Linked DNA regions of Homo sapiens. The protein of the gene in region 1 interacts with the protein of each later gene in a biochemical or structural test. Each region holds a gene or a part of one and is shown in the gene's direction. Other genes may lie near its edges.

What was found.
Region 2: of the proteins of EHD1 (region 1) and RFFL, one has a biochemical effect on the other in vitro, tested with the Homo sapiens proteins (one study listed by BioGRID).
Region 3: the proteins of EHD1 (region 1) and RBSN form a complex in vitro, tested with the Homo sapiens proteins (one study listed by BioGRID).
Region 4: the proteins of EHD1 (region 1) and RAB11FIP2 form a complex in vitro, tested with the Homo sapiens proteins (one study listed by BioGRID).

The regions. Positions count from the first base shown.
Region 1 is NC_000011.10:64,875,605-64,882,982, reverse strand, and holds the start of EHD1 (EH domain-containing protein 1), read left to right. Parts: upstream 1-4,361; 5' UTR 4,362-4,495; coding exon of another isoform or gene 4,496-4,518; coding exon 4,519-4,922; intron 4,923-7,378. UniProt on the Homo sapiens protein: ATP- and membrane-binding protein that controls membrane reorganization/tubulation upon ATP hydrolysis. In vitro causes vesiculation of endocytic membranes. Acts in early endocytic membrane fusion and membrane trafficking of recycling endosomes.
Region 2 is NC_000017.11:35,011,688-35,018,710, reverse strand, and holds part of RFFL (E3 ubiquitin-protein ligase rififylin), read left to right. Parts: intron 1-1,104; coding exon 1,105-1,188; intron 1,189-2,130; coding exon 2,131-2,341; intron 2,342-3,947; coding exon 3,948-3,971; intron 3,972-6,561; coding exon 6,562-6,743; 3' UTR 6,744-7,023.
Region 3 is NC_000003.12:15,096,136-15,103,785, reverse strand, and holds the start of RBSN (rabenosyn-5), read left to right. Parts: upstream 1-4,637; 5' UTR 4,638-4,751; exon of another isoform or gene 4,752-4,764; intron 4,765-5,511; 5' UTR 5,512-5,667; intron 5,668-7,075; 5' UTR 7,076-7,251; intron 7,252-7,497; 5' UTR 7,498-7,650. UniProt on the Homo sapiens protein: Rab4/Rab5 effector protein acting in early endocytic membrane fusion and membrane trafficking of recycling endosomes. Required for endosome fusion either homotypically or with clathrin coated vesicles.
Region 4 is NC_000010.11:118,008,926-118,015,948, reverse strand, and holds part of RAB11FIP2 (rab11 family-interacting protein 2), read left to right. Parts: intron 1-838; coding exon 839-884; intron 885-6,723; coding exon 6,724-6,951; 3' UTR 6,952-7,023. UniProt on the Homo sapiens protein: A Rab11 effector binding preferentially phosphatidylinositol 3,4,5-trisphosphate (PtdInsP3) and phosphatidic acid (PA) and acting in the regulation of the transport of vesicles from the endosomal recycling compartment (ERC) to the plasma membrane.

The DNA.
Region 1 (7,378 bases):
CCCATCTCTACTAAAAATAGAAAAAATTAGCCGACGGGCATGGTGGTACACGCCTGTAGTCCCAGCTACTCGGGAGGCTGAGGCAGGAGAATCACTTGAACCCGGGAGGTGGAGGTTGCAGTGAGCCAAGATCACGCCACTGCACTCCAGCCTGGGCAACAGAGGGAGACTCCCTCTCAAAAAAAAAAGACTCCGAAGGCCCAGATTCTCATTCAGTCTGGGCTACTTCGAGCAGTCACTGGACATCCCGGGCCTCAGGCTCTTTCTCACTGGAATTTGAAAGCAGCTAAGATTCTGACACGGTCACCTCCAAATTGGGCCATGTTCTGGCTGCCAGATGCCTTCAGAGCCCTCTGGGGCCCAGCAATCTCCCCAGAGCCATCACCCAAGGGCCACAGCTGCTGCAAGAGAAAGGCCTCATGGTGTGGAGAGGACACTCTTCTTGCCAGTGTGGGAGACCCGGCATTCAAAAGAACAGTCCTCCTCAGTTCCTCACCTTGTGTCGGGAAAACTGATTTGTTGCCCAAATCTCATGACTGTGAGAACAAAAATCTGTGCTGATATGCAAACTCTGTCAGTGGAAAGAATGAACCACTCCTCATCCCAGGGAGAAACCTATGTTTTGGTTTTTCTCAGCTCGATTTTTCTGCCATATTTGGAGAAAAACTCCTTAAAAAAAAAATATCGACTGGGTGCGGTGGCTCATGCCTGTAATCCCAGCATTTTGGGAGGCTGAGGTGGGTGTATTACTTGAGGTCAGGGGTTCGAGACCAGCCTGACCAACATGTATTTTTAGTAGTCTCTACTAAAAATACAAAAAATTAGCCAGGCATGGTGGCAGGCGCCTGTAATCCCACCTACTTGGGAGGCTAAGGCAGGATAATCACTTGAACCCAGGAGGTGGAGGTTGCAGTGAGCTGAGATCGCACCATTGCACTCCAGCTTGGGTGACACAGAGTGAGACTCTGTCTCAAAAAAAAAAAAACACTCTCAAACATAGTTTATTATATAGGTGAATCCTGGTCCCTGTGATGGGCTTATTGGTACGATTTCTGGTAGCAAGCATAGGTACCAGGGCCTCCAACGTTTTTGGATTTGCAGCAACGGGGGTCAGCTACTGACAGGGTCCAGTCATGCTGGATGAGGATGCCTCTGGTCCTTTTGGAAGCCTCATCCATTTATTTCCGGTAATAGGCCACTAAGGCTTTGGAGATGGACTGATGTTGATAGCATAAATCTGGGTCACATGACCACCACCCTTCACACAAACATGCGTGTGCATGTCAGCAAATTGCTCCTTGCCCAGAGGCAGAACTAGGAACTAGTTCCAGCAGCTTGAATTGCAGCGCTCGGCTCCATCATCTCCAGGGGCCATCCATTCACCTTGATGAGGCCACTGCCATGTTTGCAGTGGATTGCACGGACTGCAGCTGGCCCTTGGATGGCATAGCCAAGAGCACAGATAAGAGCTCCTCACTGCACGGCACCGCAAGCGGAAAAGGCACCTCTCTTTTTTTTTTTTTTTTTGAGATGGAGTCTCCTTCTGTTGCCCAGGTTAGAATGCAGTGGTGCGATCTTGGCTCACTGCAACCTCCACCTCACGGGTTCAAGCGATTCTCCTGCCTCAGCCTCCTCAGTAGCTGGGATTACAGGCACACGCCACCATACCTGGCTAATTTTTGTATTTTTAGTAGAGACGGGGTTTTGTGATATTGGCCAGGGTGGTCTTGATCTCAGGTGATCTGCTTGCATCGGCCTCCCAAAGTGCTGGGATTACAGACATGAGCTACTGCACCTGGCCTTTTTTTTTTAAGTTGTCTCTAGGGACCTTGTAGATGTTTTCCTAGATCAGGCCATGACAGGACCAAGCAGACCACTTAGAGGGGAGGTGAGGCCCCTTTCTGCTGGATGAGGGCGTTTCTGAGGAGAGCTAGGGGGTACCTCAAGGCCCTGGGTTTGCAGGGAATGGATTTATTAACTGAAGAATAAAACACTGGGAGTGGGGGATGGCACAGTTTCTGAGATAAAAGAAAAATACTTGAACCCTCCATCAATCTGCCATGGGCTCAGGCAGACAGGCAGAAAGTGAAACAGCGGAGAAACCAAAAGTGAAAGGGTGCATTCACATTTTATACAACTTTCCCACCAAACAAACTGCCCTACTCAGAAAACACAAAAGAAAAAAAAATTAGGACATTTTCGGTGTGGGGCATGACAAGATAAGGAAGCTGCCTGGAAGCTGGGTGCCAACTCCATGAAATTGGGGGAAACTAATTGCTGGTCACGTGGGCCTCACCAGGGTGACAGAGATCCCTTCTTTCAGTCCTTTAAGATCTTTGGAGAAAGTCAAGTGGCCATACATAACGACAGGGTCTGGGTTTTGTTTATAAATAACCCAGGAACATTTTGTTGTTTTCAGTTTTCTAGGGCTGGGTTTTCCCAGCACACAGGGCTCTGGGGAGATTTGAAAACCATGGCGCGTCAATGAGAATGCTGCCGGGGCGCCAGTTTGGAGCAGCCTCATTGAGACGACTGAACAACTACTTCATTCAGGATCCTCAGCCCTGGGCCCTTCCCTAGATCAACCCAGAAACTGCATCTCCGGGGTGGATCCCTAACAGTGCTGAGTAGGAGGCAAACACTGTGGCTTCTAAGGCTGACCCGGGAAGTCTGGACTAGGCCCGCCGGAGGCTCCTCGTCACCAATTGGCATGCAGCCTCTGGTGACAGCTCTGCCTAGGAGCCTCAGTATCTTCTTTTGAGAATAACACCAAAAAAAAAAAAAAAAAAAAAAAAGGGGGGGGGCAGTAGCTTGTGTGCTTTACTATGATGAAAAGAATCAAATCAAAGCACTAAGGGGCGTAAGATTGCAGGCAGGGTTGGAATTACTTATCCGCTCTCCAATGGTTAGGGAGCAAGAGGGGAGGGCAAGGGAACTATCTATTCCCTCGGAAGGGATCTTACAAGCGGTAGGCGAACAAACCTCCCATCGTGTCCTCTCTAGATTCCACCACTCAGTTCCCCTGAGATATCCCCCGTTCTCAGATTTGAGTTCCTGCCTCTTCCTCTTAGCCTACCAGCCCAAGTTATCCCCTGATACAGGCCCCTAGCCCTCCAGGCTTCCACATCTCCCAGAAGCGAGGAAGTTGGACCTGAGGCTTTCAAAGTCGCAGGTTCAATTCAGATCTCTTTAAGAGCCCCCAGGGTCCTGCTACCACAGGTTGGTGTCTTGATACTGGTTACATAACAATCAGTCCCCAAAGCTCTGACATCACCCACTGAAGATTCTCACCAGCCTGGACAGCCAAAGGGGTCTGTGTGTGGCCGGGGAGGATGGCGGGGGAGTGAGCCCCATGGAACAGCCAGGAACTGGTAAGGGGAGGTAGGGCACAGATCCCAGTAAATGATGGTAAATGGTGGTGACCCCGAGAGGAAAGTGGAAGTATTTGGGTTTTTAAACTTCCCCCTAAATTCCCACAAGATTTCATTGTTGCCCCCACACTTCCCCTCTTCCCCACATAGGGAATTTCCGATTTCACTTCCCAATACGCAAGTGGCCAGAGAGCCTCAACTTCCTCCTCATGCCCTCCCTGCCTTGCCCCAGCTATAGCCTTTGTGGGGAAGCCTTCTCTTCTCCCGCGCGAGTCCGGTGTCACCCATGTCCTCCCTCGCTTGCGTCCCTCTCCCATTCCCACCCCGTCGGCCTGAGGGGAGGTCAGGCCTCTCGCTGCCCATTTTTCTTTCCCCAGTCACCAGCCCGCCCCGGATTCTCTACTCCCTCAGCTTGCTCTGCTACCACTTTCCTGTCTCTCCCTCTCCCAAAGCAGATAAAAGATGAGGGGACAAAGACAGTGTGTGTCTGGGAAGCTGGGCTGAGAGGAGGAGGTGCCGCCGCCTGGGGGTACTCCGATGCTTCCGGGGATTCCGAGCCAGCTGGAGGACCGCACGTGGCGAACGGCGGGCGCGGCGCGTAGTCAGGGAACCAGGGTGCCTGACTGGGTGTCTCGTGGAGCCATCCCGCGGGGGTGTGGGGGGGCCACGGTGCCGGAAGGCGCGCGGCCCAGAGGCCGTCTCCGCCGAACGCCCGCTCCTCGCCTTCCTAACCGCAGCACTTTCGCGAGCCTCCCTACGAGGGGCGGGGCGAAACAGGTGCGGTTGCCACGGCACCCGGACCACAGCCTCGCGAGATTTGGAATCAGCCAATGGGGGCGGGGTAGGGGAAGACGTGGCACCAGTCGGAGGGGCGGGGCTGGGAGGGGCTCCTCCCTACCGCCCCCAATTCCGCCCTGCCCCCGCCGCGGCGGCGCTAGCCGCCACTGAGGGACCGACCCTATAAAGGCCGCTCCGCGAGGGGTGCGCAGCATTCGGCAGAGGGCGCTTCGACGGGCTGGGCTGTGCGCCTGCGCAGTGTGGGTCGCTCCCGATTCCCTGCCCCGGCCGGCCCCGCCTCGGCTCCGCACCCTCGCCCCGCTCTCAGCCGCCGCTCTGCCCCGCAGCAGCCAGCCCCGTGTCCGGCAGTATGTTCAGCTGGGTCAGCAAGGATGCCCGCCGCAAGAAGGAGCCGGAGCTCTTCCAGACGGTGGCTGAGGGGCTGCGGCAGCTGTACGCGCAGAAGCTGCTACCCCTGGAGGAGCACTACCGCTTCCACGAGTTCCACTCGCCCGCGCTGGAGGACGCTGACTTCGACAACAAGCCTATGGTGCTCCTCGTGGGGCAGTACAGCACGGGCAAGACCACCTTCATCCGACACCTGATCGAGCAGGACTTCCCGGGGATGCGCATCGGGCCCGAGCCCACCACCGACTCCTTCATCGCCGTCATGCACGGCCCCACTGAGGGCGTGGTGCCGGGCAACGCGCTCGTGGTGGACCCGCGGCGCCCCTTCCGCAAGCTCAACGCGTTTGGCAACGCTTTCCTCAACAGGTACCCACCCATCACTCCAGGGGGCGGGGGGCGCGTCCGGGGCACACCCCTCACTCGGAGCCTGACCCTCCCGTGGCTGTCGCCCCGCCGTCCTTTGTCTCCGAGGCCCCAGTGAGACCCTCAGTGACCACTCCCTGGTCCAAGGGCCCTGCCCCTTCCCAGAGTAAACCCACTGGGGGTCTAAGAGTGGGCGTTGTCGGCTCCCCCAGCTTCTGTCCTCCCCAGAATCTTCCAGGGTAACCACCAAGCCCTCCTGCAGATCCCAGCCCCACTCCCCTCAGCAGCAGGGCCGCAGTAGGAAGCTGAGCCATTCCTGCGCTCCTTTTCTTGGTCTCCACCTCCGTCCCGCAGGCTGGATGCACCTAATTCACGGAAATCAACCCTCCCCTCCCTGTCTTCTTAAGTGTCAATAGCAAAACACAATGAAACTTTTAGCCATTCCCTTCTCTGGTGCGGTGTGGGTCTGCTCTGCCTCCCCTGGGACGGTGGTTTTGTGTAGGAGGGAGGAGGAGGATCGGCTGTGGCTTGCTGACTTTGGGGCAGCCCCTTGGAGGCAGGGGACAGTTGAGGTTCGAACACTTCTCCCAATGGCAGCTCTCAAGAGGTCAGTGCTGCCCTGAGGGGTTTCAGGAAGCAGGATGAGGTGGTGGCAGTGGGAGCCCTGCAATGAGATTCTGGCCCTAAGCCCTTCTGTGCACTGAGGGACAGAATCTGAGGTTCCTTCACCCACTTGGACCTCACTTTTCCAGTTAAGTGGCCTCTGCACGCGAGGAGAGTGAGCTCCAGGACTCTGCCTGTCTCAGTGCTGTGAATGAAACACAGTGCTCCCGCCCCTCAAGGAGTGCAATGCCCAAGCTCACTTTTCTCCAGAGAAACTCGAGACATGCCCGTCCCAACCCCCAGGCGACATACCAAAGTACTTCACAGACCCTGTCCTCCCTGCCACCCCACGTTCACGGACTCCACATGCCTTTCATAATTCTGCACCAGCGAAGAGCCTCTGAAGGAATCTTTGAATCCTGCCTTCCAGGTCCCCGCCCTGCACGGTCACATTCCTTTCCAGACGCCATCCAGCTGTGCAGGGCAGCTTGCCCTAGAGCCAAGCTGGTGGCCAGGCCTACTCCAGGCACAGAGCTGACCTTCAGCAGGGTCTGTTCACTTCCAGGCATTTCAGCCCGCCCTCCTGTTTTACGGCTGTTGATGTTTGTCTGTCAAGGCCAGGTTGAGTGCAGCCCTTTGGGCTAAGGGTCCTGAAGAGGCGGAGTCCTCTTCACTTTCCTTGTGAGGGCACACCTTTTTTGAAAGGAGAGACATGGCACAGGACCAGTTTTCTGAATTTGGAAGCCTAGAGTTTCAGAGCTGGAAGGATCTTAGACATCATCTTGGCAGCCCCCACCTGACTGGTTCAGGAAACCGAGGTTCAGAGGGTCTGGCTGATGTGTGGAAGTCACCCATTAGGTCAGCCAGCACTGACTGCCTGGCTTTTGCACAGCCAGTTACTGCTTTCTGCTGCTTCTACCCGAAAAAGAGCAATTCGAGATTGCTTTGTCCGAGACCGGTGCTTTGATGACATTGGTGCCACAGGATCTGAGAGGTGGCACACGTTTATTTCCTTCTTGCTGCCACCTCATCTCCAGAGGATCCCTGATCACTGATGGCCCTGCCGAAAGGGCCCTATCAGCCCACGCTGAGGCCCAGAGCTGTGCCAGGATGTGTAGTGTGGGGAGTGAGCCCGGCGAGGAGGGTGCAACAAAGGAGGCTTTTCTCTGGCTGATACAGCCTCTCCCAGCTGAGTCTTGAAGAGACTCATTGAGTCGTGAACTTGACTTGCCGGCCTTCTCCCCCTATGTGGCTGCTCTAAGAATAAAATCAGCTGGAGCAGACCAAGGCAAGGTGCAGTCAGGGTGTCTTAAGAGTGTCTTGCAAAAACTTATTGCATAACTGGGACTGCCACTTGTGCGAGATGAAACCTGTGCGTTCTTGGTGAGATGGAATCGGAGGCATCTTTGCTGCTTCCCCTTTCTTGTTTTCTGCCATATACCCTGGGCTCTGCAGAGCAACTGGTTTCTGGGTCCTATAGATATTAACTCACTTTCTGGGCTCATTTATGAGGCATTTTTATGTATGTGATTTCCCAGAGCCAATTCTGCTTCCCATCCTTCTATTCTGTAATCATCTCTCCAGCGCCTCCTGTCCCCAGCAGGAAGGCCAGGACTGGCCTTCATGCATTGCTACTGGCACTGGCGAGAGTGAGGCCCACGTTTTGCTCGCCCTGCAGGTCAGCTGGTCTTGCTCCACTGCCTTGCAGAGCACCCCTTGCCCTGGCCAGCTGCCCTCTGCCCGTGGGCCCCTGGTCACTGGGGGATGGGGCCAAAGGGAGAAGCTGATCGGCTCAGAGTCCTCCCGTCTGTTGGAAAGGCAGCTTCAAGTCTGTGTCCTACAGATAATGGGTCAGT
Region 2 (7,023 bases), on another chromosome or scaffold:
ATTTTGTTACTTCTGCTTTTCATTTCCATTGCAGTTGGTTGCCTCTTCTTGATTAGCTCCATATTATGAATCCTAATGTGGGGTGAGTGGCTGGGGTCGGTGGGTGTCTTTGGTTTCCCAGATTGTCCCTTCACTGGCATCCCCAGAATCTGGTGGAAAAGGCCTGTGAGCTCAGACACCTCTTTGCTCTGAGCTCACAGCAGGCCCTTTGCCTGCAGGGAGCAGTGGGCGAAGAGGATCTACTTAAGGGGTTTGTGGCTTAAATGGTGATGGAATTAGGAGGCTAACAGTTCTGCCTACTCTTTGGCCAAACCTCCTAAAAGAGTACTCAGGAGGAACCTTTTGAGAAGTGAGAATTCTAAGCATAATGAAATTCCGTAAGCATAGGCAGTGTTTTATATAGTGTTAGGCTAATAGATTCTTAGATACATTAAAATACTCTTTGACTAGGTCTGGACATAGCACTTAATAATAGTGTGCTCAACATGGGGAGCACATTTCCAGAATGTGAGAGTAGTTACTAGGCAGAAAAGAAAGAGACTAGGGTGGTGATGATCTGGAAACTTTGTCCCATCAGTGTCAGATAAGGAAGCCAGGGAGATTTAGTGTGAAGGAGGGGAAAACATGGTATAAACAGTTTGGGAAAAACAAAAAACAAACAAACAAAAACCCCAGGAGACTATGGTCTGAGGAGCAGAACCAGGGATAGGGATGGCAATTTTGGATCAGTGTCAAGAAAAACCTTGATGCCAGATAGAGAGCAGTCCAGCAGTGGAATGGACACAATGACCTTCCCTTCACCTGTGGTGCTCAAGCTGAGATTAAATTGATGATGAGTTGTGGCTACTGCCATCCTGGTGTGTGCAGAATTAATGCAGTTTTGTTCTAGAGGGCAGCTTTGTCTATTGAAATGTATTTTTGTTGTTTCTCTGCTTGACAAAGTTGGTATGAGAGAGCAGGCTTTTGTAATGATGCTGTAAGAGGCTCCGGATTTCTGGGCATGATGGGAGTACATTCTGGACATTGTGTGAGTTGAAAAGAGGCCCATGCTATGCAGATCTCTGGGACATCTCTAGATGTGATGTTACTTTTCTCTTCCCACAGGCCAATGGCCATGTGTCTCAGGATCAAGAGGAACCCGTCTACCTGGAGAGCGTGGCCAGAGTACCTGCTGAGGATGAGACCCAGGTGGGGCCTCTGCTTGGGTCTGTGTCTTCACCTTTCCTCTTTCACTGGTGTTCTTCGGAACCTCTTAGCAGAGTCGAGTGGAGAGAGAATAAATGTGTGATGATAGTGCTTCCGAAATTATATTTTTGGGGTAGGGTTTAGTGTTAGTGTTCCAGGTTAACTAGTGAAGCGGTCAGTGTATTTATAAGGAGTTGTGAGGTCACAGTGGAGACGGAGAAGCCTCATGGCCCATTGTATTTCCAGTCTCTTGACTTTCTAAGAGCTGCCGGAGGGCAGGCTTGTGGTCCTGCTGTTAAAGTCTTGTTCTTTCCTTGCTTCTAGCACACTGTAGCCATTGTCAAGGGAAGGAGGTCAGACAATTAGCCAGGCAGGGCCAGTCCAGAGCACAGACCAGGGAGCTGTGGCCAAGGTTGTGTATAGAGGAGTACTTGCCAGGGAAATGTGCCTCTTGTGGGCAAGCAGAAGTCTCCAGGGGAGAAGGGCCAGCACCATGCTGGGTTTCATGTGCGGCCATATTTAACCTCTACAGGACCCCTGTGGGGTAGGACTGCTCTCTCCCCTTAATGGAGGGGCAAACGGGCTCAGAGTGGTAAGCAACTTGCTGGATATTATTTAGCATTAACAGCAGAGGAGTCAAGATTCAAAATTAGGGTCATATGACTCAAACCAGCACTCCTTCTACTATACTTCTATCTAGTACTATATCACACTGATTGGTTGGTCTGTGTCTGTTTGCTCCTGAGCACAGAATCGTGGGTCAGGAAGAGATTCTAGTATATTTTGCAATGCAGAGCACCATGCCAGGTACTCATCCTGTCTCTGTTCCTACCCTTCATGAGGTCAGTCACCAAAATTATGATGTGGTGACTGCTTTGGGGTCCTTGGAGAAAGAGCTTGGGGAGGTAAGAGCTGAGCACACTGATCTCATCTTTGTCATTGCAGTCTATTGACTCAGAGGACAGCTTTGTCCCAGGCCGAAGGGCCTCTCTGTCTGACCTGACTGACCTGGAGGACATTGAAGGCCTGACAGTGCGGCAGCTGAAAGAGATCTTGGCTCGCAACTTTGTCAACTACAAGGGCTGCTGTGAGAAGTGGGAGCTGATGGAGAGAGTGACCCGGCTATACAAGGATCAGAAAGGACTCCAGCACCTGGGTGAGGGGCTATCTGCATGGTAGCTTTACAGAGCTCAGGAGTGTTTGCTGTCACTCCAAAGCATGATGGTATTGACCTGACTCAATTTCCACACTTAAGCCATGGAAGGAGACACCTTACATATTTGCACCGTCTAATAATAGCTGTCATTTGTGGTTGAGTGTCAAAACTAGATTAGGCATTGCATGTATGTATTTATTCCTTAGAGCAACCTATGAAATAGACATTATTAGCATCACCCCTTTATCTGAAAGGTAAAATTTAACTGAAAATTTTATGGTCTAAGTCCATAGCCTTTCTCACCATATGCTATCCCCTCCCTACTCACCACCACCTTGTAAGTTTTCTTACCTTAGAATAAGAATGCTTGTTCTGAAGATTTGGGAGGTAGAAAGTGAATCTACATACATGGCAGGAGAAGATAGCTGTTCCATCTGCACTTGGGCTCTTCCTTTTGTTCATTTCCCAGAGCATTTTACACTGTATCATTCAGGAGATGCCCAGGAAAATATCTGGGTCTGTGGTTAAATGAGTTTAGGGAAAAATACCTCATATCTTCATTACTGATTTATGGTAGATTTTTATATTAAAGGCAGAGAAGTCCTGCAGAAGAGAAATGTGTTTTGGCTGTTTTGAACTTAGCATTTCCTGAAATTATTTCACCACAGAATCTTCTCCTTTCCTCCCATCCCCAGTTGATTTGGTTCCTACAGAGCAACATACTGATTCCTTGCTTGGTAAGAGTGGTTGAAGTCAGGTTTCAGGCTCTCTTCTACCAGTAGCTCAAATTCATCAGTGTTAGGGGTCATCTGACTGACTCTTCACCCGATTACAGACTGAGGCCTACTGACATGGAGTCTGTTTTCCCTTTGGGATTGTTTCAAGAGTCTTCTCTCCAGTCGTCAGGACCTGGGGAACAGAACAGATGACTCCACGTGGGAACTTTATCCAGATTCTCTGACTGACTGAAACAGCTAGATAGTTCATTCTTTCTTGACTTTAATGCTGACTTCAAAATAGAAAAGGATATTGCACATATACAGTATCCTTCTACTTGGCAGTTTGTGCAAACTGGTGGAATACCTTTTCCTAAGAGTAGACCAGGCTGGGTGTGTTGGCTTATGCCTGTAATCCCAGCACTCTGGGAGGCTGAGGCAGGTGGATCACTTGAGATCAGGAGTTCAAGACCAGCATAGGCAACATGGTGAAACACCATCTCCACCAAAAACAAAAAATTAGCCGGGAGTGGTGGCATGTGCCTGTAGTCCCCAGGTACTCAGGAGGCCGAGGCAGGAGAATCGCTTGAACCCATGAGAAAGAGGTTGCAGTGAGCCAAGATCATGCCACTGCACTCCAGCCTGGGCAAGAGAGTGAGGCTCCATCTCAAAAAAATAAAAAATAAAAGTAGACCAGATGCACGAGTAGGAGCTTTGTGTGAGTTCTGAGCATGTAGAGCGAGTAGAGGGCAGATGTCCATCTAGGCTCTTGGCAAGCCTGGTTCCCAGCAGGGAGTGGTAAGAGTTCAGAAATGATGTCAGGGCAGTAAGAGACTGTATTTGTACCATCATGCCTTACCTATTCAGACATCCTTCTCTTTCCTTTTCAGTCAGTGGTGCCGAAGACCAAAACGGTATGTAGTTGTTTCTGTTTGGGAATGGGCTTAGGCCCTTTTGTCCTTCCCCTCCTTCAACCCCAATCCCTTTAGTAATCTAAGAATTCTGAGCATTTGAGCCCCCAGAGAGAGGGTGTGTGGGAAACTCACTGAGACCCAGGGGGCCTCTCACCATCTTTAGAAATTCTCTCTGCTCGCTGTGCAGGAAGCAGAGTGGAGCATACGTAGGGGCGGACTGACTGATGTGCATGTCCCTGGGCTACCTGAGCTCATAAGCCAACATTTGTAAAACACTGAAACAGAGGAGGGGTGGCATGTATCACACTCAGCTCATTTTTTAAAATCTTGGTGTTTTCAGTTCTGGTCTGGGTAGGGAGGGTCTCTGTGTACACCTTCTGGGGAATCAGGGTGTTTAGCAGCTTCTGGTACTAACCAAAAAGAAAGGGTGGTGACCTGAGACAGCCCTGTTTGTACAGGGCTGGTAATGGTTAGAGCTACTCTGGAGCTAACACATGTGCTACTCTCTGGGCACAAGCTATATATCTCAGCTCAGCTGCCACTCACTTAAAGACCACCACTGGGCCCTCAGGTACTCCCAGAACACACTGCAGAACTCCTGACCATCTGTGGGGACATTCTAAAATATGCTATGTGTTTTCAAAAGCCTCAAGGGTATATGGTTGTGAACTCCCTTCCAAGAGAGAACGTTCTAAGAGTAGTGTTGGACTAGCCTGCAGCATTTTAAAACTTATTTCAGAAGATTTCCCAAATTTATTTAGTAAAATGGCCTTTTGCTCAGAATGGGCAATTTTATGTCTGATTACTTCTAATCAGACATAAAAAACAGTTGAGCTTTTCTCAATTCCCCAAAACCATTTGGAGTTCTAGACCCACCTCCACCCTCCAACCCCCCAGCATCACCGGTACCAAGATCAGGCTGATCTACTTGGTGCTTCCTTTCTTTTTCTGATTCCCTGGGAGAATGCTGACAACTGAGTTAATGTGTTTGTTGTTACTTCTGAGAGAATGAGTAACTGAAAATTATAAATTATTCCCATTCATCTTAGGTATTTGTATAGTCTCCAAACCTCTGTTAGGACCAACAGCACCTCAAAAGAGGCAAATGGGTTTCACTCCCTTTCACACCCAGCCTACCTCCTAGGGGGAAGTATTTCTTGACTTTTTAATAGTCCAGAAAAGAGAAAGTATAGATGCAATAAGGGAGAATTCCTCTATGGGTTGGCCAACCCCCAGATGGTAGAGGTGACTTCTGTGAGATCAGTTCCTTTTTATGGGTACCTACTTCAGGCTACAATTTAAGACATATTGGAGATGGCTGGGCTTTTGAACATTATTTTTTCTGTTTGGGTCAGCTCTACTAGGATACTGGTCATGCCCACTATATTCTGCTAGTGACACAAGCCAGTTAGCATTTATTGAGAACCCTGTGCACTCAGCAGTTGATACTGTCTGGATAGTTTCTACTCTTAGGGCAGTTAGGCAGAAGGCCATTCTAGAGCAGGAGCTGTGGGGCCAGCCTGCCTGGGTTTGAATCCTGGCTCCTCGACTTAGCAGCTTTGTGCCCTTGGGCAAGCCACTTAACTTTTTTGCCCCAGTTGGCCTCATCTATAAAATGAAAATAACAAGAGGTCCTACTTTATAGTTTTTGTGAGGCTTCAGTGAGTTAACACATGCAAAGCTTTCAGGACCCTGCCTGGCACACGGTAAGCATTCAGTAAATGTGGGATGTTGTCATTCCCTTGGGAAGATGTTCATTCATCAGACATTTAGAGTACCTACCATATAACTGGCATTGGGGGCTTCAAAGATGAATATCTAACCTTGGAGCATGGAATAAATGCTAAGCATATAATTGTAAAAATTGATTGAATATGTTGAATTAAAGAGCTCATAGTCTACTCTGGGAGTAAGTAGGCAAACTCAAAATTTTAATCCAATGTGATAAGCAGTCATGGGGGTATAAAAAAGTTTTGTGGGGGTAGAAAGAGGGAGCAGTAATCTCTGCCAAGTTTCTCCACCAGGAAGTTTCCTCAGGAAACCTGGGAGTAGTTTGTGAGATAGCAGAGGGGTCCCCCATGATCCCTGACTTTATTAAATGGAGGATATGTTTATAGATAAAGCCTTGTGATCCTTAATGAACCATTCATCACAGTTCCATTTCTATCTAAACTTTTCTGAACCAGTTTTATCTTTTTAGCCTGTTCTGCCTCAGGGGATAATGAGTCCCTACGTGCCACTCACACACTCACTATATTACAGCCCCAACAGTCTGAAAATTATTTCTTTTAAGCTTTGAGAACTTTGCCTTAGTTCTCATGTTCTGGGATGTGTCTGATCCACAAGTGCTGTGTACTTTTCAAATCTTTACCTGTTGGAGGGGATGAAGTGTGGATTAAACAAGTAACCAGAGTTGGTTATTGAGGAAATGTTTCCTCGGAGGAGCTCTATTTGAGGGAAGCATGTGCACTGAGACTTTGTTTACAATGTACCTGTTATCTCCCACCTCCCTCCCCCAGTCACCCCTATACACTTAAGACATTCTCCTCACTCCTCTGCCCCTTTTTTTCTGCCCTGTGTGTTTGTACAGGGGGAGCAGTACCATCAGGCTTGGAGGAGAACCTGTGTAAGATCTGCATGGACTCACCCATTGACTGTGTTCTTCTGGAGTGTGGCCACATGGTAACCTGTACCAAGTGTGGCAAGCGCATGAATGAATGTCCCATCTGCCGGCAGTATGTAATCCGAGCTGTGCATGTCTTCCGGTCCTGAGAGCTTGCATCGGTTTCTTCAGTGCCTTACAGGGAAATAGCCTGGGGTGTCTGGGCTCAGGGTTGGCCAGCTTGCAGAGGAGCAAGCTAGTAGAAATATTGCAGGGTTCCCAAAACCAGGTCAAGCAAGATGCCATGTCACCCCTGAGCATGCCTGTCTTCCCAGGGGTGTACCTCTTGGCTGGCAAAGCCCAAGGCCAGTGGGAACTTGTATAAATCACATGGGTATGTTCTTGGTTCAGTGATCTTGGAGTGATGATGGTAACTGATGAACAGAGAAC
Region 3 (7,650 bases), on another chromosome or scaffold:
ATGTAGGTAGGTGCTTAATACATAGTTTGTTGAATGAACTTAAAATCACAAGCCTAAGTCATTTGTTGAGTTACAGATTTTAAACTGGAGTCATGAGATGAATGTGTTAGATGCTCTAATATGCCAAACACTCTTAAATCCCTCAAATACTTAAAATACCATATACACACAGATTGTTTCAAATCTGGGTTAAAATTGAGGTTAACTTCTCAACTGGCTGAAGGTGCGTATCTCTGAAGATGTAAGTCAGGGAATGAGATCTGAAGCTGCAGACAACCAGCGTGACTTTTTCTCGTGACCTGAGGACCATGCTGTGCTCTTGATTCTCCTCCTCCCTGCACTTAGGGCCACCGTGCAGGTTGTATGCAGCATAGTTGGGAGTAGGGTGGGGGTGGGGGTAAGTGGATGCTGAAATCCAGTATGTGCCCCATTTGCCAAATGCAGGGCTTGAGTGCCAGCACAAGGTTTTGTCCATGGGAGAGAAGGGAGTGGTGCCTCTTTCCCATTTGCCACAGGCCCCAATGGGCTTGGAGTGGTCCTGCTTTGTCAAAGACAATGCCAGCCCGCTACCTGCAAACTGATTGGCTTTGAAGCTCACATCTCCCAAGTCAATTCCATGTTTCCTGCTTTTCAGGTTTGCTGAGGCTGTTCCCCCACCCACTATTGGATTTAATGAATCTAGTTGCTATGTGATTCTATTCTGAGTTCTTTTTGGAGACATCCCATCTGGCAAGGCCATGACTCTCAAAGCTATTTCTATGACACCAGATTGGATCCTCACACCCTCATGCTATTGTCTGACTCAGCGCAACACAACAGCCAAGGCATGTGAATTACACTGCTCTTCCTTTTTCTTTATTTAACAAACATTTACATAGTCCTTCCCCTGTGCCAGGCGCTGTTCTAACACTTTCCAAATATTAAGCTATTTAACCCTCCAACCTAAGAGGTGAGTACTATAATTATCTCATTTCACAGATAAGGAAACTGAAGCTCAGAGAATTTAAGTGACCCGCCCAAGGTTCACGTGGCCACAGGTGGCAGGGCTGGGATTCAAACCCAGGTCGACTTTTGCTCCATCTTCGCTTTTTTCTTGTCATTCTTTCCCTCCCTCTTCCTCTTCCTTTCTCCCCTCGTTTTCTCTTCCTTCTTCATTCCCTGCTTCCTTCCTGACAGGGCCACAGCAACTGCCACCTGCTTCCCTCAGACACTGCCCAGCCCAGCACACCCTCCCTCCATCCTCCAGGCAAGGCTCTGCCAGGCTGTCTGTCATCACCCTCATTTCTCTGTGCCAGCAGACAGGGTGTGCCAACCTCAATGCCCTCAACCCGCTGGCTCAGACCACAGCAGCTGGCAGAGGCCTGGGAGCTGGGGCCAGGCCAGCCTGGAGGGCAGTTGGCCCTTCGGGAAGTTACATGATGTGCCCAGACCTTCCCCAATGACGTTTATGTTATCCATATCATAATTTATTTTCTTGCCCAAGGATTTTAATGTGGTGCCAAGATGTCTTGTGCTGCTTGGGATAAACTTAGACAAATAAGGGCCAAGAGAAAGTGAGAGAGTGAGATAGAGAGAGGGATAGAGAGACAGAAAGATAGAGAACCCTAAGGCAGGGGGCAAGGGTGAAGAGACCCAGCTGTCCACGATTCTCTCACTAGAAGTGGCTGCCTACAGTTTTGGGAACAAGGAGGAGTGGCTTGATATCATCCCTCTATGTGTGAATGAACTTTTCTGTGAGTTTCTCAAAGGACTCATGTTCTTCTCCATAACTATGCCTTTGCATATGCTGTTCCCCTGGCCTGGAAGGCCCTTCCCAATCGTTTCTACCCAAGGACCATGCTCACGTGCTGCCCGCTTCTGGGAAACCTTTCGTGAATTCCTGCAGGGGACTCTGCTGGTCTCTCCTCTCACACCAGAGCATCTGTGTGCACGTGCACATTTCTGTTTTGAACTAATTGGCTTACATCCCCTCTCTATGCCCAGTACAGGAGTGGTGCCTGGAGGAAGCTGAGGAGGTACAGGAAGTCTATCAGCACTTCACAGAGGAAGGAAAAGTGGGGATTGTGAAAGCCTCAAGGCAAGGTGACTCTGGGTTCAAGGCTCACCAGCTGGTGACCCTGGGCAAGTCACCTAACCTCTCTGTGCCTCAGCTTCCCTTCTATAGAATGGGAATATTATTACATTTTGTATAGTTTGTACATCATTGGGTTGTGTGAGAATGAAATGAGTTAAGATATGGAAAGCACATAGAACAGTGTCTGGCATGTGCAAATCCCTCAGTAAATATTAGTCATTTTTATTATTATCAAACTGGAAATAGTCATAGAGTTGCCTAAAGGATTAAAGAAAGTACTTTTGATGAAGTGTGAAGCATATAGGAAGGTCTTTGTCATTATCATTAACAGTATCGGCCAGGCGCGGTGGCTCACGCCTGTAATCCGAGCACTTTGGGAGGCCGAGGCGGATGGATCACGAGGTCAGGAGATTGAGACCATCCTGGCTAACACAGTGAAACCCTGTCCCTACTAAAAATACAAAAAATTAGCCGGGCGTGGTGGCGGGTGCCTGTAGTCCCAGCTACTCGGGAGGCTGAGGCAGGAGAATGGCATAAACCTGGGAGGCGGAGCTTGCAGTGAGCTGAGATCACGCCACTGCACTCCAGCCTGGGGGACAGAGTGAGACTCTGCCTCAAAAAAAAAAAAAAAAAAAAAAGAAAAAAGAAAAAAAAGAAACAATATCAAGAGCAGTGCCCAATCCACTGTGATTTCCAGAATTAACTTACAAGTTGAGGCCACATAGCTATTGCTTTTTTGAGCAAATGAAATGATGAATATGATATTTTTTTCTTTTCTTTTCTTTCTTTTTTTTTTTTTTTTTTGAGGTGGAGTTTCACTTTGTTGCCCAGGCTGGAGTGCAGTGGGACAATCTTGGCTCCCTGCAAACTCTGCCTCCTGGGTTCAAGCAATTCTTCTGCCTCAACCTCCTGAGTAGCTGGGATTACAGGCGAGCGACACCACACTCGACTAATGTTTTATATGTTTGGTAGAGACAGAGTTTCACCATGTTGGCCAGGCTGGTCTTGAACTCCTGACCTCAAGTTATCTGCCCACCTCGGCCTCCCAAAGTGCTGGGATTACAGGCGTGAGCCACCGCGCCCGACCAAATATGTTTTTTGTAAATGATAAAATGACAAGCAAAAATCATGATGGTTTAATAAACGTTCATTGCCCTACCCAAAACATAGTCCTGCCTGTAAGTGTGGCTCGTTTTGGGACCTCGGTGGCTTCAGACTTTCAAAAGGGTGGTTTTACTCCCAAAGTCCTGGCTTTTGGGACCTAAGGCAGAAGCTAGTGATGGAGACGGGGAGCTTGGCATGTTGCTTTGCTTCTGACAGGTTAGGAAGCCTCTTCCTTGTCTCCATCAGTAAACAAAGGGAAGTCATTATTCGCTCCTGCAGATGTTGTAACGTTAAAAAAAAATTGGCCATCAGATTGAGAGAAAAGGCTAAGTCACTGGAGCCAATTTCTTTTGTACAGATGAGAGAACTCAGGCGAAGAAAGGGGAAAGGACCTGCTCAAAGCCACAAAGTAACGTACAGCCAGGGCTAGAACCCAGATCTCTAGACCCCTAGTTCACTGCCCTTTCACTGGTGATTGCTTTCCAAAAACTCAATGCTCTCCAAGTCCGGAGCCCCATGTCCTTAAATGGAAGGTGATGGAGGCTCAGTGCTCCTGTCCAGAGACCAGGTGGGGAAGACTTTTTGGAGGCAGGGAAAGTGAGATGGGCAAAGCCAATATGCAGGACACCCTCCTACCTACCTACCTACCGTGCAATTACCTCAATCTTCACAACACTGTGAAGCGGAGACTATCATTATCATCCCCATTTTACTTCTGTAAAAGGGGGCCAGTAACACTGCAGGGATGTAAACGGAGGCCCAGGATCGTCCCATCGTCCCATCGTTCTCTGCAGCTCTTGCTCCTAGAGGCTGGCTATTGCTAAGGTCCAGAACGTGTGCAGGGCACAAAGCAAATAGGTCTCCGGGACTGGGATGAGGTTTTGCCTCTCTATACCCCGTGGTACCCAGCACAGCGTAGGCACGGGGTAGGTCCTGGCTGATCAATCGTCCTGCCTTTTGAAAATGCCATCTTTTCCACAGGCTTGGCCATGCTGTACACCCCGGGATACACCTTCTCATACCAAGTCTCCACTCTCATGTGGTTCTATTCTTGGACTTTCCATCGCCTCCACGTCCCCTGAATATTTTTTCTGTCTCTAGCTCTCAGGAACTTTGATTCCTTGGCTGCCTTATTCTTTGTGCACTTTGGTCAAGAGCCAAAGATCTACTGGTCTCAGCTTTCCCACCTGTACAAGGCGGTGCAGAGCCATTGGCTGGCTTTGACGCGCTATTAGTTCGAATTCGGGACGTAAGAACCGCACAAAATTACCGAGCCCCACTTTCTCTCCGCTCCCCACCATCCCCTCCCTCGTTCGGAAAGCGCCTGCGCAGAAGCCGCCGGCCCGCCCTCCACTATTCGAATCCGTATCCGCCCTTTTCGCGCCCTCGAAGACTCGGCGCTCGACAGGCGTCTACCAGCTTGTCTTCCGGTTTCGTCGCCGCCGCAGGCGCACCTGCCGAGTTCCGAGCGACCGATGGAGATGGCGGCTGCGGCTGAGTGACGGACGGTGGAGGCCCAGAGCCCGGGCCTGAAGGGGGGGACAAACCTGGGTGCCCGCAGGAGCCCGGCAGGGTACATACAGAGGGTCAGGCCCAGTCTGGGGGGCGGGGACACGACTCCTCCAGAACGGAGACGGGCGGGCCGTGTGTGGTTGTGGTGGGTGTGACGTGAGAGGTGGGAGATGGGGCTTTCAGGCCGTGCGTTTCGCTTGTGTGTGCCTTTGATGATTGGGCTCTGTGTGGTTGTGCGGTTACGCGGGGCGTATACACTTGGGTTTGGTTGTGCAGCTGTGGGTGGAGTGGGTGGGTGCTTGTCTCCCGAGCGGTTGTGTTTGATTCTCTGGTTGTGTAAAGCTGAAGCGTTTGTATTCTGAGTTCGTGTGGAGATGTTCGGAGTGTTTTGTGTGGTGTCTGTGCGATGTGTGACGTTGTCATGTCTGCTTCACGGGATTGAGTCGTTCGTGTTGTGTGTGGTCATGCGATGTGTGTATAATCATGTTAGTTATGTGGGTTGTGGTTGCGATCGTGAGGCCGGGTTGAGTGCGGCTGTGGGATGTGTCGTCGATGCGGCATGTGGCGGGGTGACATTCATGCTGGATGTACGGCTGCAGAACATGTAGCTATATTTATTTTTTTTATTTTTATTTTTTTTACTTTTTACGTGATTTAGAGTGCGAGGGGCTTGCTTATGTGTTCAGTTATGGTTGTGGGGTCCAATTCGGTGGTTGTGTTAGATTTCTTTATGGTGTATGCTTAGTTATATGATTTTGGAGTTCATTCATTTCTTCGTTCATTCATGGAGCTTTATTGTGCTGCTTCATTGTGTGTGCCAGGTACTGTGCTAAACCCTGGGGAGACGGCGAAGTGGAAAACATATAGAGTCTGTGCCCTCCCAGATTTTACAGTCTTACTTGGTCACTTCACGTATGTACCTGCGGTTATAAATTGAGATGAGTGCTGTGAAGGAGAAGTCCATTCTGATGCTCTGAGTAAGAGGCATTTCTTTTGAGGAAGTGAGGTTTGGGTTTGGGCTGAGGCGTGAAGGGTGGTTGTGTGGCATGGATGTGGTGGGCTTTGTGTTATTTGTGGTCGTTAGGGGTGAGTGCATGGGAAGAAAGGGAGCTGTCAGAGTCAGCATCAGATGAACCACTGGCTGGGGAGGGAACAGGCCAGACCTAGGGCTGCTATATTCCAGTGGAAAAGTTATGAAGTCACTGGGTTTCTTAACTAGAGGGAAAAAATAGGGACCTGGTGTCTCATTTGTTTATTTTCTGAGTTGCTGCCACCCTTCAGCTTTGAGGACCAGGCAGTCCCTCCTCGGTGGTCTTCTACAGTCCATCCAAAGCTGAGGGTCACACATCTCCCCTCACTATATACTGTGGCTTGTATCCCCAGGTTCTTGGGGAGAAATTTCTCTGCTTTTGTGGAATGGTTTTGTCTCAATTTCTCTTGTGACTGGGTGTCTTGATGAGGTGACATTGGAAGTGACTTTGCCATGAGCCAGTAAGAAAGAGAATGTAACTTATTAAGCCCTGAAGTGTTTAGGCCCCAAATCAATTTATTTATTTATTTATTTATTTATTTACTTTTTTGAGATGGAGTTTCGCTCTTGTTGCCCAGGCTGGAGTGCAATGGCATGATCTCGGCTCACTGCAACTTCCGCCTCCTGGGTTCAAGCAGTTCTCCTGCCTCAGTACCCCCACTAGCTGGGATTACAGGCGCCTACCACCACACCCGGCAAATTTTTGTATTTTTAGTAGAGATAGGGTTTCACCATATTGGCCAGGCTGGTCTCGAACTCCTGACCTCAGGTGATCCGCCTGCCTTGGCCTCCCAAAGTGCTGGGATTACAGGCTTGAGCCACCATGCCTGGCCAGCCTTTTATTTTTGAAGCAGTGAGAACATCAGGTTTGCTACTTAACTGTCACTTAATGGCTTATAAGATCTGTCAGGGTGCAGTGGCTCACATCTGTAATCTCAGCAGTTTGGGGGGGCTCAGGCAGGAGGATTGCCTGAGGCCAGGAGTTAGAGACCTGCCTGGGAAACATAGCAAGAACCTGTCTCTATAAATAATTTAAAAACTAGCTGGGTGTGGTGGCATACTCCTGTAGTCCCAGCTTCTTAGGAGGCTGAGGCAGGAGGATCACTTGAACCGAGAAGGTCGAGGCTGTTGTGAGCAATTATAGCTCACTGGGTGACAGAGCAAGATGCTGTCTCTTAAAAAGGAAAATATAGTACGCCCATTAGAGATAAGTGCTCTACAAATATAAAATAGATTTTTTCTTTTTGACTAGTAGGTTTCTATTGTTTCTCTTTAACTGATGTTAGGATTTTTGATTTTTTGTATGTTTTTATGGCAGATACTATATCTTTTTCATCTTTGCATTTCTAACACAGGTGTCTTACAAGTATCAAGAACTTACTATATGTGGTTGAATAAACAATCAAGGTAAAGAGCATCAAGTAAAAACTTCTGCTTGTTGATAAGTACTTCAGACATTCCCCCAGTGGCTGAAGTGGCATATGAATTATGAAGTTGGATCATTTGGAATGAATGTAAGAGAATTGCCAAGGTATTGTTTGCTTATTTCAAGAATCTGTGCTTCCCACTTCATTGAGTTTTTGTTCTCCAGTGATGTTTTCACATTTTAGGTTTTGCAGCTTGCTTGGTCTAAGGATTTGAGAAAGAGTTTGTTTTCTCAAACTTGCACTGAATAAACATTAAGTACCCCATTGAACTGTGAAAAGAATGAAGAAAATCCTCAATTGCTACCAGTTTGCCTGAATTGGCTTTTTTCCCTTCTTCTTTTCTTTCTTAGGGCTCCTCCTACTCCAGAGAGGAAACCTCATCCAGGGCCATGAAGCCACTTCCTCACCATCTGTGTGCTGCTTAAGCTAATGCTGCGGGAACCATGGTTCCTTGGGAGGAATCAAGCTGACTCTTGGCATGAGATTCCTGCCTTCCTAGGGTT
Region 4 (7,023 bases), on another chromosome or scaffold:
TTACAGTTGTTGTTTTGTGCATGGAATAAAAAGGTTCTTAGGACACTAATGCTTTGTGAAGGTTTTAAAGGCTAATACCTTTAAGTGCTGGGTAAAAATTAAACTTGAATAGCACCGATGAAATATTTACTCATCAGATGGCTTTGAAGTTTAGCGTCTTTTGGTTGCAGTCCCATCTAATGGACATGTTTCAAAGAAGAAAATAGTTATAGCATTCAGCTGTGATGTTTTCTTCTCTGCATGGGAGAAATCTGTGTTGTTTTGATTCGTTTCAGTATTTAAATTTTCAAGACTAGCTACTTAGAAATCACATTAACGAGAGAAATGTTTCCCACAATTCTGAATTTATTCTTATTGATAGGGTAATGTTTGAAAGCTGAGTTTTCTAACACTTATGGCATTTTTAAACAGATTGCTTTAACTCTTTTATTCTATAATCTTTCCAACCTAAATTTACTTAATTCTCCCTAGTTTTATATCAGAGGGCCTAAGGTGAGTGACTGTGTGTAAATATAATGGGAAATCTCTCACACAAATTAGTTTTGCAAAATATCTTGCTGGATAAAAGTGCTATGTTTAAAGTTGTTTAGAAACTTCCTATTTCATTCTTCAGTTCTGATAACTAAAAAGTTTTCCTTCAAAGTTTGAAATTGTAATGATGCTTTAAGAATGTTGGGGAAATACTGGATTTTTTTCTACTTCTTGGATTAAATTTCACTCCTCTGAATAATGTAGGGCTTTAGAAATTTGTATTACAATGTTGGTTAAAATTTTTCTATTTTTATGTTTCCTCCCACATGAGTTATGACACTTTTAACATTTGTTTGTGTTTTATTAGTTTTCATATGAGTCCAACAAGCAATGAAGACCTCAGGAAAATCCCGGTAAGTTGCTGAAGGGGTTAGAGGGTTGTCAAAGAGTAAGCTGGTCTTTTTCTCTGGCACACATTTCTAAAAATGCCTTTGTCTTCTTGCCTTCTGCCTCACTTACCTAAGAATTGTAGCTTAGCGTAGTAATTTTAGGAGAAAGAAAGAAAGTAAAATACAATCTTTGCCTTTAATATACAATAGGGTGTGACTCGTATGATCTATGAAAGTTCAAGCAAAATTGGTTATAATTGAAGCCAATTTAGAATATACATATTTTGTTTACAGACTTTTGAAATTAATATGCAAGCTGTATGTCAGGGTCAAATTTGTGGTTATGAAATAAGAGCACGTAGAAAAGACTATTTTTTGTTGTTGTTGGGACAAGGATTGAAGAAAGAATAAAGCTGCTTGTTAACATTCAACAATAGAAAAGCATCCTGGCAGGAGAGCCAGATAACCAGGAAAGTATTTGAAAGAACAAATACTTTAGGACACTTATCTTTCTCGTCAGAACAAAACCAAATATGTTAACAGGATTGGTAGCGACCACCTAAATCAACTCACGTATTTTGCAAGGATTATTCAGATAATCTGAACTTTATTGTAGTATTTGAAGTCCAGTATTTAATCTCTGTTCAGAGTTCCATTGCATCTGCAATCAATTCTAACTATATTAAACGTAGAGAATAAATTACTTTGCCAAAATATGGGCAAACGTTCTTGGTAGAAAACTAAATTCTCACTGAATAACAGAAATAGAGGCTTTATTCCAAGACACTGGTGGTTGCTGTTTCAACCATCTGTCCTTGATGTGTGCGATCCAGATGTATAGTAAGAATTTTTTTAGGCAATCCCATATCACATATCACTATTTTTTAGGATGTGACATGGCTAGAAGAAGCTAAGGTGGGTTTAGGGTTTATTTTCTAAACCATTCTAAATGCAGTTGTTTATCTTTAAAATTGTGGAAACTGTTACAGAAGCACAGGACTTTGTACTGTGTTTTTGCTGTTTTATTTAAACGATTCGTAAGTTTTGATGTTTTATAAATTCTCAAGTCTTTATAATATGGCAGTCTGGCGAGAAATGTGAGAAAATATGAAGTCAGCCTTTGATCAGATAGTAAAATGAATTCTATCAGGCGGTTACTTAATCTCAAACAAAATGCAACATCAAAAAAATCGATTTAATGTGTAGCTATTGTTTATTAAGTAACCTTAATTACAATTTCGATTGCTTGTAAATGTACTTTTCCAAATCTTGTAATTTATTGCTGTAGAAGCATCCTTAGAATTCTTTAAAGAAATAAAATGTGAAAATTGTTTTAGTTAAAGGATTTAAAGGTGATAAAAGAATCCTTGATGTGTGATTATTTTTCTCTGGAATACTAACTATTCTAAATGACAGTTAAAGGATTACTAGGTGTTGTTAATTTACTGCAAGATACAATTAAGAGGAGGAAGCGCATCTTCGTACTGATCATGATTGAAGAAAAGCATTCGAACAATTTTTATGTTGAAGATTATAAGATGTTTGAAGTAATTTACATTAAGTTCTCCAATAATAGCCATCCACCAAGTTATTTTTTCTCCCTCTGGACATAGTATTTTGTAATTAAGTTTGTATGTCTTATATGCTAGTGCCAACACCTGTCTGTGAAAGCACAGTGTTTAAACAGGAGCAGTAGCCAGTTGAAAGGGCAGTGTGAGCTCTTTAAGGCCTAATTAAGAACTGAAAGGGAGATGAAGGGAGTAGGACAAAAGATGTGAAAGTAGCTGAGATGATATTCCCAGAGCAAAGTTCCTCATTAGAACAATAATGAGATGATCAGAGAATGCCAAGCCTTCATTTTTTTTTCTCTCTCTCCTCTAGTTGCCTTGGATGTCAGTTAGTACCCCACCAATATTTGGTTACCAGGACAACCTTTCTTTAAATCTTCAGTTATTTTGAGTCTTGATAATTTGCTTTTGTTTAAATTTAAATATTGTAAAAAATGTACATTTCCTAGTTTAAAAGGCTAGACTGTGTAAAGCAAAAATAGATCACTAGCAGTTCTCAAAATCTTATGCAAAACTGTATTATTTAAAATTCTGGGTTAGAAAACTTCATGTAGTAATTCTAATATTTTCTTACCAGTCCACATCTTCTATGTCTGCATATGGACATTTTTAACAGAGGTGGAGTAGAAATGAGAAAAGGTTGGTTGTAAAAGGGGAAGAGAGAAGAAAAATTTACATTAAATTTCAAAATAAGAAAACATCTTAAAAACATAAGTGCTGTCTGTATGGAGTACTGTAAGAAAAAATATTGAGCACTTTGGAGTAACCATTGTAAGTTGCATTTGGTCTTTGCCAGTTTAGAGAGTTATGAATTTTGCAAGTTTTTGCAAGAATAATCTTTCGAAAAAATAATTTTTATATTTACCTGAGAGTTTTCCTCTCTAAAAAAATAATTTTTGTAATGAGCATATGTTTTAATTTTCTATTGTTTATATTACTTAATCATTATTTTATTTGGAGTTATATCAACAAACAGAAATATATATATATATGTGGAGTATATCAGTCAATTTAAGAATCTCATGCCTAAAATTAGAAGGTTTACATTGTTTTCAAATATCAGATAAAATCTGGAACTCAGCATGAAACTGTTTTTAATTATTTTATATTCTTTTCCAGAATATAATTCATAGTACATATGTTTCTAAGATGTTTTCCTGCCTAGAAACTTGATGCTAAAATTTGAGGTGAAATTTTCACATAAAAGGACAAACGGAAAATTTATTGAAAAGGCCAGAAATGTATTTCCAGGAAATCTGTCTACACATTAGTGTTAGATTGTTGTAAGGAAAAAAAAAATAATCCAAATAACATATCTGTGTATTCTAGAGTATGGCTATAAAGTATGACCAGTAGTCTGAAATAATAATTGATTATTTTGAAAGATTAAACTATTAATTTATATCATGGCTTTAATTTATATCAAAACACAAATTTTTGAAACGTTTTTCATCTTCAGTGTCTTTAGAGAAATGTTACAAAAAATTTTTAACTACATTAACTGGTAATAGTGTTAAATATAACAGTGCACTTTTATTTTAACTATTTCATAGCTTAATTAGTTTGGAGAAATCAGTTTATATATGTGTAATTTTATTAAGATTAGAGAGACTTGAATAGATGCTTTTATTATGTTAAATAAAGAAAAAGCATAAAGCAGTCAACTAATCAGTAATGAATCCCATTTAGCTTCCTTTCATTAATCCCTGCAATTCTCACAAGAACATGAATTTCTCAGTAAATGTTTTATTAGAAAAGTGAAATCACATTAGTTAGAGTTTATTAGTTTTTAAAGTGGGGTTTAGAAAAATCACTTGGTATACCAGACAATTTTAGAGTTGAAAGGGACCATGGAGAACATCTCATCTATCAGATAAGGAAAGTGAGACCCAAGTTGCTTTCTCTCTCAAATTTATGCAGAATTACTCGAGTTGAAGTAAGACACTTTAGCTTATTTTTAAGAAATTTCAAAAGTATACCGAACTCTACACTATGTCTTCTCTTTACTGTAGAAAACGGCTTAACATAATCTTTTATAAGAATGTAATTAATACTTATGTATCTCCAAACTATATATTATGACCAATTAAACTAGTAACTACGTGCATGAGAGTGTGTGTGTGTGTGTGCGCATGTGTGTAGACTTATAAAAGATTAATTGATCTGAGAGAGGAGGGAGAAGTAAAACAACACTTATCTCTAGAATTGTCCTTTAATGGTTTTAGAACAATATTTGAAATGTTTTTAAGGATGAAGGAAATATGACTGAAACTTACATCTGTTTCCAGTTTCTAATGCTAAAATAAACTAAGTTGTTTTAGACATATTTTATAGAATTTAAACTCACTTCCCTTTAATATCCTCTCTATTCATTCTTGCTAACTCTGGTCTTTCATATTTCAATAGCCCTATACCTAATCTTAGCCCCTCCAAATGATTCCACTGTTGCCATTTTACTTTTCCTGGAACATAGCTTTAATCATATCCTTTCTCTGTTTAGAAACCTTCAGTGGCTTCCTATTTTCCATAGCAAAAGTCTAAAAATTCTTTATACTACCATTCAGCATTCTTGGTGGTCTATTTCAAACCTTCCATTTCGGCCCCTGTCTGCTCGCTGTCCTGTACAGTATTTTCCAGCCATGCTCTACAGAGTACCTGTTATTGGATTACCTGTTGGCCACTATGCCTTGAGCCTTGTTTCCTTCTTTGAACAAGCAGAGTTCACTGCTTGAAATGCCCCATTACGCATTTCTGCCTGCAAACTCTTGAAGGCCTAGCGCAAGCTGTATCTTCTCCACAAAGCCTGAGAGATTCTATGAAATTGGAAAAGTTTTTCAGTCCTGAATGTTTTCACTTATCCTGGAGAAGTGGGTGTGCTTCAATGACCCAAGCATCAAATTGGTATCTGTACTCTAGCTTCTCTTTCTCTGGTCTGGTAAAGTCCTGGTTCCTTGGGCTGAGAGGCTGGGGAAGTGGTGAGGGCCAGTGAAAAGTTAAACTTTGGCTTTTCTCATGAACACCCCCAAATACATAGCACTATTAAAGTAGATCCTGAAAACAGGGAAGGACAGTTTAATTCTTATTGGGGGTGGGGGTCATTCTGCATTCACCAGTCCCCATTCCCCATCCTCCACTGAATAGATTAGATAGTATTCCTTAACAGCAAGAAAACCAATTTCCTCAATATTTTAGTTAAGTTTCCTTAAAGCCAAATGGAAATGTTTTAAAAGATAGTGATGAAAATTATTTTAAATTGTTGGGCTTAATGAGAGAACTATGATTTAAAAAGAATAAAAAATTGCTTAGTTGTAATTGGGCATTATGTTTTACAGAATGAAAACTCTTAATGCTATACACTATAAATAAAAGATTATGTTACAGGGCCTTGATTAAATTCCTGAGAAATATTTTTCTTTCACTTTTGATATAACATTAATATTAGAATGCTTTGTAATAACAGTGAATTAATAAGTGTCTTTTAAAAAAGATTTTTGGTTATATTTATGCTTTTGCCTAAAAAGAATTTTTGTCAATAGAATAAAGTTAAGTAAATAGATGAAATGGGAGAGAATGCAAATATACTAACCGTAGTATTAATATGGTTGAACTCTTGAGTTTCCTGATAACCAGGGTCAAAAAGGGAAAGAAGATAAATTAGATATTATTATAGGAGAAAGAAATAGACCAGTTACTCAGGGGAGGAAAAGTTCTGCCTGTTTCTAAATTAAAACAGAAGTTACTCACATGGGGCTTCCTGTAAGGATAATCTTTGATTTAATTCCGAGTGCTTCCATTTTCATAGCAAATTAGAAAAGATTTTTGCTGTAACCATCTTCACTAAGAAGCCAAACATATAACATTAAATCACAGTTCAGTGGAAGCAGTTTCATAAGGACACAAGTCCAAGTGTATAGTTTTCAGTTACTTCTTACAGTTCCTCTGAGTTAACTTTTAGAAATCTTTAGTTTTCATCTATTTTAGTTGTATTTATTATAGAATATTTCATCTCTTAATGTAATCTTACATGATATAACCAGTCTCAGATATTAGGAAATTGCCCACAATGTTAGAAAGGGTTTTAGGATTTAGAGTTATAGTCAAAACTTTGGTGCATCTGCCCTAGTTCTTGCCTCAGGACTGGCTAGCCAATTTGTGAACTGTCACATTCACTTTAAGCAAGGCTAGCGAAAAACTTCATCAGGGTTTGAAAAACAAAAAGTCGAAGTTCCAGGTAATTCTTAATGTTTGTCCCAGATGTTATATCTATGAAAGTGACAGTCTTTATCCTGTTCTAGGACAGCAACCCCTTTGATGCCACTGCAGGGTATCGTAGTCTGACCTATGAAGAGGTTCTACAGGAGCTGGTGAAACACAAAGAACTCCTTAGGAGGAAAGACACCCACATCCGGGAACTCGAGGACTACATCGACAACCTCCTTGTAAGGGTAATGGAAGAAACGCCCAGTATTCTCAGAGTGCCGTATGAACCATCCAGGAAAGCTGGCAAATTCTCTAACAGTTAATAAAGCCAATTGTATTGTATTGATAATTGGACAAAGAGAGAGAAAGAAAGAAGGAAGGAAGGAAAAACTTGT